Linked DNA regions of Homo sapiens: region 2 is linked to region 1. Evidence: fine-mapped expression QTL. A gene starts in region 1. The other region holds a variant in brackets. All regions are shown on one strand. Distances are between the middles of the regions.

The links.
Region 2: its variant is fine-mapped to the expression of PPP1R12C in prefrontal cortex (GTEx, PIP 0.95).

The regions. Positions count from the first base shown.
Region 1 is chr19:55,113,261-55,123,393 of GRCh38, forward strand. PPP1R12C (protein phosphatase 1 regulatory subunit 12C) reads right to left here and starts at 4,377. Exons shown (of 22, transcript NM_017607.4): 1 at 3,963-4,377. The coding sequence starts at 4,283. It overlaps MIR7975 (microRNA 7975), which reads right to left and starts at 10,032; the gene lies at 9,965-10,032. RefSeq lists enhancers at 1-56, 1-594, 595-1,221, 2,773-3,608, 2,963-3,012 and 3 more and silencers at 3,923-4,022, 4,043-4,122, 4,313-4,392.
Region 2 is chr19:55,068,865-55,079,644 of GRCh38, forward strand. It overlaps EPS8L1 (EPS8 signaling adaptor L1), which reads left to right and starts at 7,005. Exons shown (of 20, transcript NM_133180.3): 1 at 7,005-7,055; 2 at 7,544-7,597; 3 at 9,224-9,264; 4 at 10,135-10,193. The coding sequence starts at 7,581. It also overlaps a transcript of RDH13 not described here. RefSeq lists an enhancer at 7,459-8,184. The variant T/A (reference allele first, on the strand shown) is at 5,859.

The DNA.
Region 1 (10,133 bases):
CACCCCAGCAGATACTCTGCAGGAACGAAGCCGTGGGCCCAGGGCTATGCAGGGTGGAGGAAGGCCACCCTGTGCTGGGACAGACTCAGGGGCCTGGGCGGGACTCCCAGAGGGGTGAGACAGCTGCACACCTGTGTGCCTGGGCCCCAGGCTGTCACACTCCAGTTCACTGAGGCCCCCTCTGCACGGGGCCCTGCAGCCAGGGGCTGACACGGGCCACCGTTTCTCATTCTTCCCTTAGGGGTCCAAAACTTGGGGGGACAAAAGCCGAAGTCCAGGGGGTCGGAGGAGGGACTTGCCCCAGGCCTTGTGGACACTGGGTGGGCTCCGGGACCTGAACTGGAGCTGAGGAAGGAGTGAAGCTAAACTCCTAGATCCACGGGATAAATTACCCCCCAAGTCCCTCACCTCTCCAAAGCTGCCCATCTGGAGGAGGCGGGAGGGAGCTACGAGGGCCAAGAGCATGAGGTCATGGAAACTCGGGCTGTGAAGGGGCCGCACGTGCCCTGGGAACGGGATGAACTCGGCTCGTTTATTTCCACCCAGTTGTCATGGCGATAGGGGAGGGGGGCAAGGAGAGCAATGGGCCTTTCCCTTTCAAGGACCTGCCCAGTACAGGCATCCCTGTGAAAGATGCCTGAGGCCTGGGCACCAGGGACTCCAGAGTCCAGGCCCAACCCCTCCCCATTCAACCCAGGAGGCCAGGCCCCAGCCCTTCCGCCCTCAGATGAAGGAGTCCAGGCCCCCAGCCTCTCCCCATTCAGACCCAGGGGTCCAGGCCCAGCCCCGCCTCCCTAAGACCCAGAAGTCCAGGCCCCCAGCCCCTCCTCCCTCAGACCCACGAGTCCAGGCCCCAGCCCCTCCTCCCTCGGACCCAGGAGTCCAGGCCCCCAGTCCCTCCACCCTCAGACCCAGGAGTCCAGGCCCCAGCCCCTCCTCCCTCGGACCCAGGAGTCCAGGCCCCAGCCCCTCCTCTCTCAAACCCAGGAGCCCAGGCCCCCAGCTCTTCTCTGTTCAGCCCTAAGAATCCTGGCTCCAGCCCCTCCTACTCTAGCCCCCAACCCCCTAGCCACTAAGGCAATTGGGGTGCAGGAATGGGGGCAGGGTACCAGCCTCACCAAGTGGTTGATAAACCCACGTGGGGTACCCTAAGAACTTGGGAACAGCCACAGCAGGGGGGCGATGCTTGGGGACCTGCCTGGAGAAGGATGCAGGACGAGAAACACAGCCCCAGGTGGAGAAACTGGCCGGGAATCAAGAGTCACCCAGAGACAGTGACCAACCATCCCTGTTTTCCTAGGACTGAGGGTTTCAGTGCTAAAACTAGGCTGTCCTGGGCAAACAGCATAAGCTGGTCACCCCACACCCAGACCTGACCCAAACCCAGCTCCCCTGCTTCTTGGCCACGTAACCTGAGAAGGGAATCCCTCCTCTCTGAACCCCAGCCCACCCCAATGCTCCAGGCCTCCTGGGATACCCCGAAGAGTGAGTTTGCCAAGCAGTCACCCCACAGTTGGAGGAGAATCCACCCAAAAGGCAGCCTGGTAGACAGGGCTGGGGTGGCCTCTCGTGGGGTCCAGGCCAAGTAGGTGGCCTGGGGCCTCTGGGGGATGCAGGGGAAGGGGGATGCAGGGGAACGGGGATGCAGGGGAACGGGGCTCAGTCTGAAGAGCAGAGCCAGGAACCCCTGTAGGGAAGGGGCAGGAGAGCCAGGGGCATGAGATGGTGGACGAGGAAGGGGGACAGGGAAGCCTGAGCGCCTCTCCTGGGCTTGCCAAGGACTCAAACCCAGAAGCCCAGAGCAGGGCCTTAGGGAAGCGGGACCCTGCTCTGGGCGGAGGAATATGTCCCAGATAGCACTGGGGACTCTTTAAGGAAAGAAGGATGGAGAAAGAGAAAGGGAGTAGAGGCGGCCACGACCTGGTGAACACCTAGGACGCACCATTCTCACAAAGGGAGTTTTCCACACGGACACCCCCCTCCTCACCACAGCCCTGCCAGGACGGGGCTGGCTACTGGCCTTATCTCACAGGTAAAACTGACGCACGGAGGAACAATATAAATTGGGGACTAGAAAGGTGAAGAGCCAAAGTTAGAACTCAGGACCAACTTATTCTGATTTTGTTTTTCCAAACTGCTTCTCCTCTTGGGAAGTGTAAGGAAGCTGCAGCACCAGGATCAGTGAAACGCACCAGACGGCCGCGTCAGAGCAGCTCAGGTTCTGGGAGAGGGTAGCGCAGGGTGGCCACTGAGAACCGGGCAGGTCACGCATCCCCCCCTTCCCTCCCACCCCCTGCCAAGCTCTCCCTCCCAGGATCCTCTCTGGCTCCATCGTAAGCAAACCTTAGAGGTTCTGGCAAGGAGAGAGATGGCTCCAGGAAATGGGGGTGTGTCACCAGATAAGGAATCTGCCTAACAGGAGGTGGGGGTTAGACCCAATATCAGGAGACTAGGAAGGAGGAGGCCTAAGGATGGGGCTTTTCTGTCACCAATCCTGTCCCTAGTGGCCCCACTGTGGGGTGGAGGGGACAGATAAAAGTACCCAGAACCAGAGCCACATTAACCGGCCCTGGGAATATAAGGTGGTCCCAGCTCGGGGACACAGGATCCCTGGAGGCAGCAAACATGCTGTCCTGAAGTGGACATAGGGGCCCGGGTTGGAGGAAGAAGACTAGCTGAGCTCTCGGACCCCTGGAAGATGCCATGACAGGGGGCTGGAAGAGCTAGCACAGACTAGAGAGGTAAGGGGGGTAGGGGAGCTGCCCAAATGAAAGGAGTGAGAGGTGACCCGAATCCACAGGAGAACGGGGTGTCCAGGCAAAGAAAGCAAGAGGATGGAGAGGTGGCTAAAGCCAGGGAGACGGGGTACTTTGGGGTTGTCCAGAAAAACGGTGATGATGCAGGCCTACAAGAAGGGGAGGCGGGACGCAAGGGAGACATCCGTCGGAGAAGGCCATCCTAAGAAACGAGAGATGGCACAGGCCCCAGAAGGAGAAGGAAAAGGGAACCCAGCGAGTGAAGACGGCATGGGGTTGGGTGAGGGAGGAGAGATGCCCGGAGAGGACCCAGACACGGGGAGGATCCGCTCAGAGGACATCACGTGGTGCAGCGCCGAGAAGGAAGTGCTCCGGAAAGAGCATCCTTGGGCAGCAACACAGCAGAGAGCAAGGGGAAGAGGGAGTGGAGGAAGACGGAACCTGAAGGAGGCGGCAGGGAAGGATCTGGGCCAGCCGTAGAGGTGACCCAGGCCACAAGCTGCAGACAGAAAGCGGCACAGGCCCAGGGGAGAGAATGCAGGTCAGAGAAAGCAGGACCTGCCTGGGAAGGGGAAACAGTGGGCCAGAGGCGGCGCAGAAGCCAGTAGAGCTCAAAGTGGTCCGGACTCAGGAGAGAGACGGCAGCGTTAGAGGGCAGAGTTCCGGCGGCACAGCAAGGGCACTCGGGGGCGAGAGGAGGGCAGCGCAAAGTGACAATGGCCAGGGCCAGGCAGATAGACCAGACTGAGCTATGGGAGCTGGCTCAGGTTCAGGAGAGGGCAGGGCAGGGAAGGAGACAAAGTCCAGGACCGGCTGGAGGGGCTCAACATCGGAAGAGGGGAAGTCGAGGGAGGGATGGTAAGGAGGACTGCATGGGTCAGCACAGGCTGCCAAAGCCAGGGCCAGTTAAAGCGACTCCAATGCGGAAGAGAGTAGGTCGAAGGGGAATGGTAAGGAGGCCTGGGGCAGAGTGGTCAGCACAGAGTGGCTAAGCCCAGGGCCAGTTGAAGCGGCTCCAATTCGGAAGTGGGGTGGTCGAAGGGGAATGGTAAGGGGGACTGGGACGGGGTGTCAGCATAGGGTGGCAAAGCCCAGGGCCAGGAACGACGGGGCGGATCGAGACTGGCAACGGGGAAGGAGGATGCCCCAGGTGGCGCAGCAGAGGGTGGACCTGGCCCCGGGAGACGCCGGGCGGGGGGCGCTGACCTGGTGCAGGGCGCTGATACCGTCGGCGTTGGTGGAGTCCAGCACGGCGCGGGCGGGCGGCGGCGCGGCGGGGTCGAGCTCGGCGCCGGGGCCAGGGTCGGCGGCGCGCAGCATCAGACGCGCCTCGTCCAGGTCGCCGCCCGCACAGGCCGCCAGGAACTCGGCGGCGCGCTCGAAGCGGACGGTGCGGGCGCGGCGCTCTCCGGGGCCAGGCTCGGCGCCCGCCCGCGCCCCCCACTGCCGCAGCTGCTCCCGTCGCCGCTCCCGGGCAGCCGCCGCCGCCGCCCCCGGGCCAGCCGCCGGGCCATCCTCTCCGGACATCGCACCGCCCGCCCGCCCAGCGAGCGAGCGAGCGCCGAGCCCCAACCGCCGCCACCACCCGCCCGCCCGCCCGCCCCGGGGGCCGCCGGGAACTGCCGCTGGCCCCCCACCGCCCCAAGGATCTCCCGGTCCCCGCCCGGCGTGCTGACGTCACGGCGCTGCCCCAGGGTGTGCTGGGCAGGTCGCGGGGAGCGCTGGGAAATGGAGTCCATTAGCAGAAGTGGCCCTTGGCCACTTCCAGGAGTCGCTGTGCCCCGATGCACACTGGGAAGTCCGCAGCTCCGAGGCGCCCAGTGGAAATCGCCAGATGAGGGCCTCCTCCGGGGAATGCTGGGAAATGGAGTCTACAGGCCGGAGGGGTGCCCCACGGCATACTAGGAAGTGTGTAGCACCGGGTAAAGGGGATGAATAGCAGACTGCCCCGGGGCAGTTAGGAATTCGACTGGACAGCCGCGTGGGAGGGAGTGCGGGGAGAGGCAGAGTTGTTTTGTTATTGTTGTTTTATTTTGTTTTCTTTGTTTTGAGACGGAGTCTCGCTCTGTCGCCACGCTGGAGTTCAGTGGCGCGATATCGGCTCGCTGCAACCTCCGCTTCCCAGGTTCAAGCAATTCTGGCTCAGTCCCCAGAGTAGCTGGGATAACAGGCGCGCGCCACCCCGCCCTGCTAATTTTTATATTTTTAGTAGAGACGGGATTTCACCATGTTGGCCATGATGGTCTTGATCTCTTGACCTCATGATCCGCCCGCCTCGGCCTGTAATCCTGCTGGGATGACGAGCGTAAGCCACCATGCCCAGCTGGGTTTTATTTATTTTGGTTTTTTTCCTGACCCCTTAACTAGAAATAAGCTCCACGAGAGCGGGATCTTTTGTCTTCTGTGCACTACTTGTCCTCGGTTCTTAGAACAGAACCTGAGAGAACCTGATCGCAAATATTTTTGGAATGAATGAATGAATGGGTTCACCAGGGCACCATGGGAAACTGAGTCCGCAACCTAGAAGCCATGAAAGACAGTCCACTTCCAAGCTTCCCTGGGTGACCTCGCAGGGCATGCTGGGAAATGAAATTTGCGGTGAAAAGGTCAGGACCACGATCCTAGGGCACGCTGGGAAATGTAGCCCACAGGGCCACACCCCTAAAAGCACAGTGGGGTGCAAGGCAGGGCCCCAAGGCATTTAGGGCTCGGGGCAAGAGAAATCCACACTCCACTCCCTAATGGTAATCCCTGAGCCACACCGAGTAAAGGAACCCAAGACACAGTGTCCACAGGGACAGGGCTCTCAGAGCTTTCACTGGCCCGCGCTTCTCCTGCGCCCACCCGGACCTCCTGGGAACCGCCCAGGCCCTCGCGCGCTCTCAAGGCATGCTGGGATTGGTGGTCCCGGGCAAGGAGTTCCAGCAGGTGGGGGGCGAATCACCTTTCAGCGGGCCCAAGCGATGAGCACACCTTGATCTTCACCTTACGGATCCCGCGCCCAACTCAAGATTGGGAAGGTGGCTGGCACTTTGTGACAGGAAGAGTCCCATAAAAATCATACAGAAAAGGGCCAAAATCGGGACAGAGACTACAGACTGTTTCCCAAGCGCTGTGGGAGTTTCCCACCCACTCTGAAGTCCTTGGGTTTGCGCGGAGACGTAAACTGCGCATCCCACGAGGCCTGTTTCTTTCCCTCTCTCTTTCTCTTTTGTTGTTGTTGTTGCTGCTGCTGTTACGAAAATTTTTGTGGTTTTATTGTATCATGAGGCATTGAAACATCCGGCGACTCAATGTCTAGGCGGTGAGGCAGCCGCTTTCTCCTTCACTTTCTTTGGGTTAAGTAGAGCAACTTGTCAGTAGTTTTGTTTTTTTTTGTTGTTGTTGTTGTTTTTGAGACGGAGGCTTGCTCTGTCGCCCAGGCTGGAGTGCAGTGGCGCGATGTCGGCTCACTGCAAGCTCTGCCTCCCGGGTTCAAGCGATTCTCCTGCCTCAGCCTCCTGAGTAGCTGGGACTACAGGCGTGCTCCACCACGCCCGGCTAATTTTTGTTTTTTAGTAGAGACGGGGTTTCACCATGTTGGCCAGGCTGGTCTCGAATTCCTGACCTCGTGATCCGACTGCCTCGGCCTCCCAAAATGCTGGGATTACAGGCGTGAGCCGCCGCGACCGGCCAGATTTTTTTTTTTTTTAAAGGACAACCTTTTGCATTACTTAAGTCTTTCCAAGGCATGCGCTGGTACAACACAAACTTTTCCCATTACATGCAGCTAGTCTAGTGTCCAGACGTCATGCACAACACCTCCGTGGCATCAGCGCACTGCGCCCACTCCCACTGCGACCCTGCTCATTTGTGCATCATATCTGGAGGAGTGGCAATAGTTCTGGAAAGAGGAGGGAAGAGGAGGCAGCGTGAGGGCCCGGTGGAGAGGAGGTCAGCTGAAGTTGTGCAGAGCAAGCCTGCATATCATTGGTGCAAACCCAAGCATCATTGCATCGCTGATGTTTTGTTTTGTTTGGTTTTGTTTTGTTTTTGAGACGGAGTCTCACTGTGTCGCCCAGGCTGGAGTGCAGTGATGTGATCTCGGCTCACTGCAACCTCCGCCTCCCAGGTTCAAGTGATTCTCCTACCTCAGCCTCCCAAGTAGCTGGGATTACAGGCGTGCTCCACGCCTGGCTAATTTTTGTATTTTTAGTAGAGACAAGGTTTCACCATGTTGGCCAGGCTGGTCTCGATCTCCTGACCTCAAGTGATCCACCCGCCTCAGCTTCCCAAAGTGCTGGGATTACAGGCATGAGCCACCACACCCAGCTGATGTTCTTTAGTAGGAATATCTGGTGGAACCCCAAGATGGGGTCTTCATCCGCCACGAAGCCTGTTTCTATAGAAAGGGATAGTTCTGGTGGCTCTTAGGTGTGGTCCCTGAACCCCACACTTTCCACATACTTACACACCAACCTCCTTCCCCCAGGAAAACAAGAAGTCGGTCTTCAGGGTGTTACCGTGTAGCTCTGGTTCTGTATGTATTCTGTGCCTTTATGTATAATTGTGTGTATTTGCAATCATGTCTGTGGCTGGATGTATGTTGTTTATGAGTTTGTGTTTATGGTTTGTTTTTGTTTGTTTGTTTGTTTGTTTTGAGATGGAGTTTCACTCTTGTCATCGCCCAGGCTGGATTGCACTGGCGCAATCAAAAAAGAGTAAAATAACAGAAATCAGAATGGGCTTATAATACTCTTACCCCTCTCCACACAGGACAGAAGAGTCAATTTTATACTTTTGTGGATGTTCTAACTTCACCTGCTTATCTGAACCATCTTTATGGTGCAGACTAATATCTATTTTTCTGCTGTTACAGAAGAAGTGGGAACATTTTCTTCTTATCTTTCTGAGGTTATTTACACCAGTGAGGAGGGCCTGCAGTTCCAAGGTTAAGCACCAACATTCCACTGTTACCATTGAGAGCAAAGAGCAGACCCTAGAAGTGAAAACAAAACCTTTACCACAGGAAGACAAGAGCAAAAGATGATGTTCTTGAGTGGCATATGAAGATGCTCACAGCCAACATCACATGCCTATCAGATATTTTATGTACATCATCTCATCAACTCCAGGAGGCAGAGACTAAGAGACTAGCCCCAGTCACAGAGCTAGAAATTGGCCAAGACAAGGTTCAATCTGAGGACTGTCAAATCCAGAACTGGAATTTCTTTTTTTTTTTTTTTTTTTTGAGATGGAGTCTCGCTCTGTCACCCAGGCTGGAGTGCAGCGGCATGATCTCAGCTCACTGCAACCTCCACCTCTTGGGTTCAAGCGATTCTCTTGGGACTACAGGTGCACGCCACCACGCCTGGCTAATTCTTGTATTTTTAGTAGAGACGGGGTTTCACCATGTTGGCCAGGATAGTCTCAAACTCCTGACCTCATGATCTGCCCGCCTTGGCCTCCCAAAGTGCTGGGATTACAGGCATGAGCCACTGCACCTGGCCTTAGAAGCCTCAGTTCCTGATGGCAGTTGGGATCTGCCTTTCCTTCCCTGGACTGCCTACCTCTTGTCTTTTAGGTTACATATGAGAAAACAAACCTCCAATTCACCAAAACTATTGTTATTTGGGGAGCTGTCTCTTACTATCAGCCAAACATAACTCCTCAATGACACTGTTAGTTTAGCACTGCCATTATAATCAGGAGGGATCTGGGTCCAGCTGCGGGAACATGAAGAGGCACTAGTGGGATGACCACAGCCAGCCCCTGTTGATTCACCAGGAGACTGCAGATGCATGAGCAAGTCCAGCCAAGATCAGCCAGACAAGAACTCCCAGCGGAGCCCAGCCCAATTTGCCAACTCTCAAACTATAATTTTTTTTTTTTTTTTTGAGACGGAGTCTCGCTCTGTCTCCCAGGCTGGAGTGCAGTGGCGCGATCTCCCCTCACTGCAAGTTCCACCTCCTGGGTTCACGCCATTCTCCTGCCTCAGCCTCCCGAGTAGCTGGGACTACAGACGCCTGCCACCACACCTGGCTAATTTTTTTGTATTTTTAGTAGAGATGGGGTTTCACTGTGTTAGCCAGGATGGTCTCAATCTCCTGACCTCATGATCCGCCCGCCTTGGCCTCCCAAAGTGCTGGGATTACAGGCATGAGCCACCGCGCCCAGCCCTCAAACCATAAGTTAAATAGATGACTGTTGACTCAAGCCACTAATATTTGGGGTAACTTTTTTCTTTTTTCTTTGCTTTTTTTTTTTGAGACCAAGTCCCACTCTGTCATCCAGGCTGGAATGCAGTGGCATGACCTCGGCTCACTGCAACCTCCACCTCTGAGGGTCAAGTGATTCTCCTGCCTCAGCCTCCTAAGTAACTGGAATTACAGGCACCAGCCACCATGCCTGGCTACTTTTTGTGTGTTTTCAGTAGAGATGGGGTTTCACTATGCTGACCAGGCTGGTCTTGAACTCCTGGCCTCAAGTGATCCACCCGCCTCAGCCTCCCAAAGTGCTGGGATTACAGGCAGGGGTGAGCCACTGCGCCCACCTGGGGTAACTTTTTATGCCACAAAAGCAAACTGATGCAAGGCATTCCAAGAGGCCTTTGAGCCTCTTGCAAGTCAAGCTGATTGCAAGACACTCTGCCTTTGATAAAATGTAGTGGACAGAGAAGCAGTGGTTTCAGTGGCAGAGATGACAAATTGTTGCCCAATATTCGTTGTCCCCTTCTTTCTCAACAAAATGGAACCTCTGATTATGCTGGGTTTAGCATAGCCATCTAGAATAATGGTTACATATCCCAGTGTCGGGCCTCCGAGCCCAAGCTAAGCCATCATATCCCCTGTGGGCCTGCACATATACATGAAGATGGCCTGAAGCAACTGAAGATCCAAAAAAGAAGCGAAAATAGTCTTACCTGATGACATTCTACCATTGTGATTTGTTCCCGCCCCACCCTAACTGATACGATATATTCTGCCTGGTCCTTAAGAAGGTACTTTGTAATATTCTCCCCCGCCTTTAAGAAGGTACTTTGTAATATTCTCCCTGCCCTTGAGAATGTACTTTGTACGCCCATCCCAAACCTATAAGAACTAATGATAATCCCACCTTTGCTGACTCTGTTTTCGGACTCAGCCCACCTGCACCCAGGTGAAATAAATAGCCTTTTTGCTCACACAAAGCCTGTTTGGTGGTCTCTTCACACGGACGTGCGTGACATTTGGTGCCGTGACTAGGATCAGGGGACCTCCCTTGGGAGATAAATCCCCTGTCCTCCTGCTCTTTGCACCGTGAGAAGGATCCACCTATGACCTCGGGTCCTCAGACCAACCAGTCCAAGGAATATTTCACCAATTTTAAATTGGGTAAGCAGTCTCTTTTTACTCTCTT
Region 2 (10,780 bases), 44 kb before region 1:
AAGAATAAAGGGAGGGAGGGAAGGGAAAGGAAGGGAAGGAAGGAAGGAAGGAAGGAAGGAAGGAAGGAAGGAAGGAAGGAAGGGGAGGGGAGGGGAGGGGAAGGGAGGGAAGAAAGGCAGGCCCTGATGTTCAGGGAGCTGAGAGTGAAGTCACCGGCTCCAACCCAGGATCCAAACTCAAGTCTGTCTGGGGTCCTATCCCCGTCACCACCCCCCGCCCCGACCCATCCCCCAGAGACCTGGGAAGGAGCCAGGCTCCTCCGGTTTCAGGAAAGGGCTGCACAAACCACCCCGCCACGATCCCTCCCAGAGAACAAACAGCTCCCGGCCACCGGCAGTCTCCCTCCTCCTCCTGCCAGGCTGGTTCCCAGACCCACCCTCCCTGTGTCATAAGCGCCTCTCCCCGCACTCTCACCAGGGCTGGCTGTTCTCAGAGGAACGCCCAGGAAAAACCTACCCGAACCCCTTTCAGCTGGGAAGGGGACCCGCCTGGGCTTCCTCACCGCCGATGAGACCTCCCTCGTCGTACACTTAGAGCTGCCTGTGTTTTCCTTCCTTCCTTAAGCGGGCTGGGAACTCTAGACACTCAGGGATGGGCCAGCCCATTAGAGTAAGCATTCGGCCACCTCTAGGCTGCTACGGTCACTGCTGCTGTCACCATCAACGTGACTGTCTCACACCTCACTTCCTCCGGCCAGCCACACCCCTGCAGATTTAACCCGCCAGCCTCCCTAAGGTTTCCTCTGCCTGAAATCCTCTCTGCATTCCTGGCTCATTCTCGAAATTGAGGTCAAAGCTCAGATGCCGCCTCCTTCCCTGACCACCCTACCTGAAGCAGCCGCACCTGCCTGCTCCTAGTCACGCCGTTCCTTCACCTGTTTCGTTTCCTCCACAGGGTTTACCACAATCTGAAAGTCTTATTCATGCAGGTGTCTACTTGTTTATCTCCCCACCACACCTACTAGGATGACAATATCACAAGGGCTGGGGTTTCATCTGTCTCCTCCTCCTCTGTATCTCCAGCACATGAAACATGCTTGGCACACTGTAGGTGCTTAAGTATTTGCTACTACATCACTTTGGGATTTTGCATAGGACACTCCCAATGCTTAGAATGTCAATCTTTGCTTCATTGTCCTTGGCAAACTCCTATTCATCCTTTGAAACCCCATCCATTTATCCCTTAACCAGGAAAGGCTTCTGTGCCTCATACAACCACCCATAAAGCTGGATTAGGGCTTTCTCTGGGGACACCCTTGCCCTGTGCCACACTTCCATTAGCGCACATATCCCCCATGAATTGTGCACACCAGCAGGGTCTAGAGTACGGCACACATTTTGTCTCAGGAGCTACGTATTGAATAAATAAATTAATTACTTTTTTTGAGACAAGGTCTTGCTCTGTCACCCAGGCTGGAGTGCAGTGGTGCAATCGTGGCTCACTGTACCTTGACCTCCCAGGTTCAAGCAATCCTCCCACCTCAGCCTCCCAAGCAGCTAGGACCACAGATGCAGGCCACTATGCCTGGCTAATTTTTAATTTTTTTTTTGGTAGGGATGGAATCTCCCTATGTTGCCCAGGCTGGTTTCAAACTCCTAGGCTCAAGGGATCCTCCTGCCTCTGCTTCCCAAAGTACTGGGACTATAGGTGTGAGACGCCACACTCAGCCTCATTATTTAATATGTAAGTAGCTATATCTCTCTGAGACCCAGCCCCATCTAATTTATAACCTCCCTCCTTCTCAAGAACATGCCTCAGCTCCCATTGCCAGGGAATCTGACCTTTCTCCTTGTCATAGGATTTTTTTTTTTTTTTGAGTCAGAATCTCAGTCAGTCACCCAGCCTGGAGTGCATGGCGCAATGGCTCGCTGCAACCTCTGCCTCCCGGGTTCAAGTGATTCTCCTGCCTCAGTCTCCCTAGTAGCTGGGACTACAAGCGCACGCCACCACACCCAGCTACTTTTGTAGAGATGGGGTTTCACCATGTTGGCTAAGCTGGTCTCGAACTCCTGATCTCAAGTGATGGCCTCCCAAAATGCTGGGTAACAGGTGTGAGGCACCACATCCGGCTGTCATAGGAATTTGTCAGCAAATCCTACAGACTAGAGGATGTGTGTTGGGTGGTGTGGGGGTGGGGATAACGGAGGAGATGGGGGGTGAGCTCTTCAAGCCCCAGGGGAGAATTCTGTTCCGTTCCTGGGACATCCCAGGTGAGAGGGAAGAAAGGCCAGCCCCCCAAGACAGCTATCCCAGACTGGGACAGAGGCAAACCCTGACCACAGAGCCCTGTCACTCACCCAAGAACAGGTGCCAATGACAGAATAGCCAGGCCGAGGGGGGAGAGAGGTGCTTCGGTGATGGATTTCCCTGGTGACTTGCCAAGACAGGGCTTTACTGCCTCCGCCCTGGACTGGCTGAGTCAGACTGTGCAGGGGTGGACACTTTGACTGGTATTTGGGAGGCATTTGCTGTGGGTTACAGAGAGGGAGGGGCCTCCTTTGCGGCCAGAGAAGGAGGAAAGAGGCCCTGGGCCCTGGGACTTGGGACTTGGGTGGAGGCTCGGGTTTCGGTCTCACCTGCTGCTCCAGACCATGGCCTGGAGGGCCGCCTGCGCCACCCCCAAAGCAATGAGATAGCCCCTCCTCCCTCAGACCCAGGAGTCCAGGCCCCCAGCCCCTCCTCCCTCAGACCCAAGAGTCCAGACCCCAGCCCCTCCTCCCTCAGACCCAAAGGCCTCGGACCCATACCAAATGCTTCTATGAGATAGTTTTCTCCCCTTGTTCATGAAGAAATGAGCCCAGGCCCAGTCAGATCTGCATCTGTGTCACAGCCCAGGGCCACTGTAACCTTAGGCTACTGACTTCCCTCTCTGAGCCTCTGTTTTCTCCTGTCAATGGGGCAAGGGGTCTGCTCCTTCCCTCAAACCCCAACTCAGGTACAGTCAAGCACAGAAAATACTTGTGGCATGAATGTGATGAGAACACAGAATTGCAGAAGCCAAAGAAAGAGAAGCGTAAGGGCCCTCCTTCCACCCCTACCTCCCCCACCCGCTGCTACACGCACCAGGACCACCTGCTGGGTAGCCAGGAGCTCACAGTCTAGCCCCGCTGGCCACCCCTGCAGCCCCCATCCTTCACTCAGGCAGTTGCAGGGCCCAGAACACCCCTATCTTCTAGGATTGACACTGGCTGTCAAACTCATCCTTCAAGGTGATTCCTGGCCTGCCCTCCTCCTCCAGGCAGCCTGTCCTCCTCCTCCAGGCAGCCTGTCCTGACCCTCAGCAGCCTCTCCTGGCCTTGGCAGAGCCCCTCGTGTCCTCCCTTGCAGCACGCATGGGAAGAAAGGCCATCGTCCTCGCCATTGCTAACACCAGCCTTGCGTTTCCTCTTTGCCAGGTACTGTATTGACAACTCTCTATAACCTGACTTTATCCTCCCAATAAGCTGGGTGTGGTGGGTGGCTCATGCCTGTCATCCCAGCACTTCGGGAGGATAAGGCAGGAGTATCACATGAGCCCAGGAGTTGGAGACCAGCCTGGGCAACATAAGGAGACTCTACTATATATATGTGTATATATATTTATATATAGTCTGAGATGGGAGGATCACCCCAGTAGGTCGAGACTGCAGTGAGCTGTGATTATGACACTGCATTCTAGCCTGGGCCACAGAACTAGACCTTGTCTCAATTAAGAAAAAAAATGGGGATAATAGGACCCATTCCATAGGATGTGGTGAGGATTATGCATACACACACACACACACACACACACACATTTATGATGTACTGAGAAGATATAAGCACACAATAAGTATCTCCAAAATTATCAAGTGGCAAAGCCAGGATTCAGACCCACACCTGCCCGAGGCTCTCTGCCATCAGACCACACTATATCTCTTTCTCTCTGTTCCTTCATCCCCATCAATCGAAGGCAAAAATGTGCCTTCTCTGATTTCCAGGCTCACTCAGCATAGACCGTGGAGGCAACATATCTTGAATGAAGCAACAAAGCAGTAATGCACATGAATGCACCAAATGCCAAAAGCTCGTTTACTCAACAAGTATCTCTCCAACACTTTCTATGTGCTAGACCCAATTCTGTGTGCTGCAGATTAAGTGGAGGACTGATCACACAAAAATCTTTGCCCTTGTGAAGCTTGCATTTTTTTTTTTTTTTTTTTGAGATGGAGTCTTGCTCTGTCACCCAGGCTGGAGTGCAGTGGAGCAATCTTGGCTCACTGCAATCTCCACCTCCCGGGTTCACGCCATTCTCCTGCCTCAGCCTCCGGAGTAGGTGGGACTACAGGCACCCACCACCAAGCCTGGTTAATTGTTTTGTATTTTTAGTAGAGACGGGGTTTCACCATGTTAGCCAGGATGGTCTCAATCTCCTGACCTCGTGATCCACACGCCTCGGCCTCCCAAAGTGCTGGGATTACAGGCGTGAGCCACCACACCCGGCCGCTTTTTTTTTTTTTAAGATGGAGTCTCGCTCTGTCACCCAGGCTGGAGTGCAGTGGCACGATCATCTCGGTTCACTGCAACCTCCACCTCCCAGGTTCAAGTGACTCTCTTGCCTTGGTCTCCCAAGAAGCTGGGATTACAGGTGTGCACCACCAACTCTGGCTAATTTTTTTTTTTTTAGTAGAAATGGGGTTTTATCATGTTGGTGACATGGTGTGATCTCGGCTGACTGCAACCTCCACCTCCGGGGTTCAAGCAATTTTCTTGTCTCAGCCTCCCAAGAAGCTGGGATTACAGGTGTACACCACCACCCCCGGCTAATTTTCATATTTTCAGTAGAGACGTGCTTTCACCATGTTGGCCAGGTTGGTCTCGAACTCCCAACCTCAAGTGATCAATCCGCCTCAGCCTCCCAAAGTGCTGGGATTACAGGCATGTGCCACCGTGCCCAGCCTGTGAAGCTTGCATTCTAACGGAGGAGACACAGACAAAATGAACCAGGAACACAGTGGGTAAGAAGGTGAAAAGTTCTCCACACAAAAATGAAGTAGGGAGAGAGGAAAGAGACTACAAAGAAGTTGGGTTGCCGGGGGCGGTGGCTCACACCCATAATCCCAGCACTTTGGGAGGCCGAGGCGGGCAGATCACGAGGTCAAGAGATCGAGACCATCCTGGCCAACATGGTGAAATGCTGTCTCTACTAAAAGTACAAAATTAGCCGGGCGTGGTGGCGCGCGCCTGTAGTCCCAGCTACTCAGGAGGCTGAGGCAGGAGAATCACTTGAACCTGGGGGGGCGGAGGTTGCGGTGAGCCAAGATTGCGCCACTGCACTCCAGCCTGGGCAACAAGAGTGAAACTCTGTCTCAAAAAAAACAAAAGAAGTCGAGTAAGGGATGCCGCCATTTGAAACAGGGTGGTCAGCCAGTCCTCTGAGAAGGTGACATTCAGGCAAAGATCAAAGGAGGCAAGAAAGTGAGGCATGAGGGTATCTGGTAGAAGAGCATTCCAGGCAGAGGAAACAGCAAGTGCAAAGGCCCTGAGGCAGGACCGGGTCTGGATGTTCCAAGAGCAGCAAGGAGGCCAGTGTGCTGACACACAGAAGGAAGAGATGAGATCAGAATCACGTCCCTTAAGGCCTTGCAAGATGTCAGCTTTTTTTTTTTCTTCTTTTTTGAGACAGAGTCTCGCTCTGTCGCCCAGGCTGGAGTGCAATGGCGCAATCTCGGCTCACTGCAAGCTCCGCCTTCCAGGTTCACGCCATTCTCCTGCCTCAGCCTCCCGAGTAGCTGGGACTACAGGTGCCCACCACCACGCCCGGCTAATTGTTTGTATTTTTAGTAGAGACGGGGTTTCACCGTGTTAGCCAGGATGGTCTCGATCTCCTGACCTCGTG[T/A]TCCACCCGCCTCGGCCTCCCAAAGTGCTGGGATTACAGGTGTGAGCCACTGCGCCCGGCCTGTTTTCTGTTTTTTGAGATGGAGCCTCGCTCTCTTGCCTAGGCTGGAGTGCAGTGGTGCAATTATCGGCTCGCCGCAACCTCTGCCTCCCGGGTTCAAGTGATTTTCCTGCCTCAGCCTCCTGAGTAGCTGGGATTACAGGCACCCGCCACCACACCTGGATAATTTTTGTGTTTTTAGTACAGATGGGGTTTCACCATGTTGGCTGGGCTGGTCTCGAACTCCTGTCCTCAGGTGATCTGCCTGCCTCGGCCTCCCAAAGTGCTGGGATTAGAGATGTGAGCCACTGTACCCATGCAAGTTTCTTAACCCTTCTCTTCCTCATTTTCTCATCTGTGAGACGAAGACAGCCTCCCACCCAGACACACTCCCCTCACGGGGCTCTGGGGAGAAATGATGTGGAAAGCTTTGCTAGTAACCTCTACAGCATGGAGGGAGTTCTGGAAAAGTGATTTCAGAAAGGTGTTTATGCCTGGAAAGCCTGTTCATTTTTGTGATGTCCTTGGAGCTGGGCCAGGCATTATCGAGCTAAATCTTAGCTTTTGTCAGAATAGGGGGGTCATTGAGGGAAATTTCCAAAGGAAGGTGGAACGGGATGGGTGGGGAGGTAAGGGCATGAGCAGAGGCAGTGATCGTGGGCAGGAGGTGTCCATAGAAGACGGGCTGCCACTGGCCCTGGAGACAGAAGGTCAGCCCCGGGTTCAAATCCCTCCTTAACCAAGTGCTGAAATGGACAAGTTGCTCAACCTCTCTGGCCTTCAGCTTCCTCATCTGTCAAGCAGGAATCAAACCTCGAACTTCCTCCCGCTGTTAGAATTTCAAGGGAGTTTTAAAGACAGAGCTTTCAACTCTGACCTGTGAACAAGTGTGACATCAAATGTACTGTTCGTTGCTATTATTCTGTTGCTACAAGGCAGACAGTTAGTTTCCCAGCTCCCCTGCAGTCCCCCCAGCCCCTCCTAGATCTGTCTGCCAGCCCCGCCCCGGGGTCACTCCAGCCAGGCTGTGCCAGGTGAATGCTCAGGTATGCGGAGGCGGAGGCGGAGGCAGGACGGCCCTGGGAGGGAGCAGGAGGAGGGGCCGGCAGCCTGGAAGGGAAAGGACAGCGGAGAGCAGGGCAGAGCCTGAGCAGGCAGGTAAGGAGATCCGGGTCAGGAGAGAAGGGGGCCGGGGCTTGACCAATGGGTCTGAGGGACGGGGGGACTGGGGTCTGGACTCCAGGGTCTCAGGGAGGACGGGCTGGGGGTCTGAACTCCCGGGTCTGAGGGAGGAGGGCCTGGGGTCCTGGACTCCTAGGTCTGAGGGAGGAGGGGCTGAGGGCCTGGACTCCTGGGTCTGAGGGAGGAGGAGATGGGGCCTGGACTCCTGGGTCTGAGGGAGGAGTGGACTGGGGTCTGGACTCCTGGGTCTGAGGGAGGAGGGGACTGGGGTCTGGACTCCTGGGTCTAGGGAAGAGGGACTGGGGCCTGGACTTCTGGGTCTGAGGGAGGAGGGGCTGGGGGCCTGGACTCCTGGGCCTGAGGGAGGAGGGGCTGGGGCCTGGATGCCTGCATTGAGGGAGGAGGCTGGGGTAGGAATTAGAGGCTCCTACTGGCCAGGCCTTCACATGTTTGCTGGCTCCCAGGGCACCTCCAGGTGGGCAGGAGCTACCACTCAGCACCATGAGCACCGCCACAGGGTAAGCGCCCCCGGACCCCAGGTCCCAGCCCCAGCACGCCTCCCGCCTCCCCTCGCCTCCTCACCCACACCCGCTTGCGGCAGCCCAGACTGTTTGCGGCGGCCCAGACTCTGGCCCAAGCCCCGACACTCAGGAGGAAGCCAGAGCCTCTCTCCTCCCTGCCCAGCCTGGGGTTAGGGGCCCCCACTGCAGAGCAGACAGGCCTGAGCTCCAGTTCGGCCCTCACACTCAGTGCTGATGTAACCCTGGTCAGAGGACATCACCTCCTGGAGCCTCAGCCCCTCCTCTGTGACACAGGGACAATGTTGAAAAATTGGAGGGATAGTGCATTACAGGACTTAGCTGACCACCTCACTGACAGCAGGTGCTCAACTCATAGGAGTCGCTATTGCGATTGTTATGTTGTTAGTAAATATTAACCCTTTGCTAGAAAATCAGGGCTGTTTATAATGAAGACTCAAGTCCCCCAGAGTAAGCAGGGAGAAAAACAATGAGAGATGAGTCAAAATACCTGCATGGTAGGTAGTGAGCTCTCTGGCCCAGAGGTAATCAAATTGTGGTGACATCAGACTGGCAGGAGCAGGATGAGGAACAGGAGTTTGGGAAAAAGGGTTTTTCAGTTCCCCTGACGCCACCTGATCGCTGAGCTTCTGTTATGTGCATGCAAGTGGGGATTCAAGAATTCTTAGGAAAGGTAATCTTAGGAAGAAATTGAGGACGGGAGGAGACAGAGAAGGATGTGGTTGGGAAGCACCTGGCCCATGGGAGTGGGAGGGGAAGCAGATAATTCCCTGTCTACTTCAGATACCACTAATGCTATTATAACCATTCCCATTTATTGAGCAACTTCTGTGTGCTAAGCCCTGGCAGCATCTTAAGAATGATAATAACAGTTATTGAGGCTTCAAAATACTTCACCTGCATCATCTGACTGAATTTGCCCAACAGCCCTACCAGATGGTTACTACGTTACAGAAAGAAAAACTGAGGCAGGAGAGATTAAATCCTCTTCTGAAGGTCTTATGGCAAGGAGGCAGTAGACAGAGGGTTTGAATCCCGGACTATGCCATGGTAGAGATCACACTCCCCTACCACCCAGCACCACCGCCTGACCTGACCTGTCTTTTTTTTTTTTTTTTTTTTTTTGAGATGGAGTCTCACTCTGCTGCCAGGCTGGAGTGCAGTGGCACGATCTGGACTCACTGCAACCTCCGCCTCCCAGGTTCAAGTGATTCTCCTGCCTCAGCCTCCCACGTAGCTGGCACTACAGGCGCCCACCACCACACCCAGCTAATTTTTGTATTTTTAGTAGAGACAGGGTTTCACCATGTTGGCCAAGATGGTCTCAATCTCTTGACTTTGTGATCCGCCCACCTCTGCCTCCCAAAGTGCTGGGATTACAGGCGTGAGCCACCGCGCCCAGCCTACCTGTCTTCTTAAAGTCCAGCTCTGGCTCTGAGCTCTCCTGCTCAATAATAATAATAATAATAATAATAATAATAATAATAATAACCCTTCCATCGCTCCCCATTACCTTCGTCATGAAGCCCTTGCTGCCCTGCTTGGCATTTCCACAGGATCTGCCCCCAGTCCCACAGTCTCTCTCATTCCTCTTTTCTTCACCAGCCCAGAAGCTGCCCCAAAGCCAAGCGCCAAGTCTATCTATGGTGAGCGGGGGGCAAGGGAGCCCCAGGCCCATAGAACTGGGTCTAAAGAAACAGGACCTGGCATCCAGGGTCTTGGAGGAGGAGGGGCTGGGGGTCTGGACTCCTGAGTCAGAGGGAAGAGGTGCTGGGGGTCTGGACTCCTGGGTCAGAGGGAAGAGGGGCTGGGGGGCTGGACTCCTAGGTTTGAGGGAGGAGGGGCTGGGGGCCTGGACTCCTGAGTCAGAGGGAAGAGGTGCTGGGGGCCTGGACTCCTGGGTCAGAGGGAAGAGGGGCTGGGGGGCTGGACTCCTGGGTCAGAGGGAAGAGGGGCTGGGGGGCTGGACTCCTGGGTCAGAGGGAAGAGGGGCTGGGGGGCTGGACTCCTGGGTCAGAGGGAAGAGGGGCTGGGGGGCTGGACTCCTGGGTCAGAGGGAAGAGGGGCTGGGGGGCTGGACTCCTGGGTCAGAGGGAAGAGGGGCTGGGGGTCTGGACTCCTGAGTCAGAGGGAAGAGGGGCTGGGGGGCTGGACTCCTGGGTCAGAGGGAAGAGGGGCTGGGGGCCTGGACTCCTGGGTCAGAGGGAAGAGGGGCTGGGGGCCTGGACTCCTGGGTCAGAGGGAAGAGGGGCTGGGGGTCTGGACTCCTGGGTCAGAGGGAGGAGGGGCTGGGGGGCTGGACTCCTGGGTCAGAGGGAAGAGGGGCTGGGGGCCTGGACTCCTGGGTTTGAGGGAGGAGGGGCTGGGGGCCTGGACTCCTGGGTCAGAGGGAAGAGGGGCTGGGGGGCTGGACTCCTAGGTTTGAGGGAGGAGGGGCTGGGGGCCTGGACTCCTGGGTCTGATGGAGGAGGGGCTGGGCCTGGACTCCCAGGCTCATTCTCTTTCTCCCCTGGCAGAGCAGAGGAAGCGTTACTCCACAGTTGTTATGGCTGATGTATCCCAGTACCCAGTCAATGTGAGTCTGGGGTCTGTGTTCCCCCAGGACATCTTCTGGGGCAAAGGTGGCCTCAGGAGATAGGGCTTTTGAAAGCAGCTAGGCCCCCAAGCAGGAAGCATGTGGAAAGTCAGTTTGCCCATCCATAAAATGGACCTCCGTTGCCTCACCTCAGTCATGGATATGAAGCCAGGGGCCTCGGGTCCACTTAATCTGCCAGCCTTTCCTCCAGGCCAGCTGTTGTGCTGGACAGTGGGACCACGGAGGCAAATCAAGACACAGCCCTGCATGAGGAAGGGGTAGACAAGGTCCAGAGGAATCCACAGAGGCGCCTGGTGCTCTAATGGAGGTGGCAGGGGGCATGGCAGGAGACCCGAGGAGGCATTTAGAAGGAGAGAGCTATAATCCAGACTCCTTCCCTGCCCGCAAGGAGCCTCCAGTCTGTGAGAAGCCAGACTCAGGTGCTAGTCACTCTGATGAAAGGGAAACAAAGGGCACTGGGAGGAGGAGCTGATTTGTGGAACAGGTGATCAAGGAAGGCTTCCTGGAGGAGGTGTGGTTAGTCTCAGGCTGAAAGTCTGATTATTCTGGGGGATTCTGAGCCCACC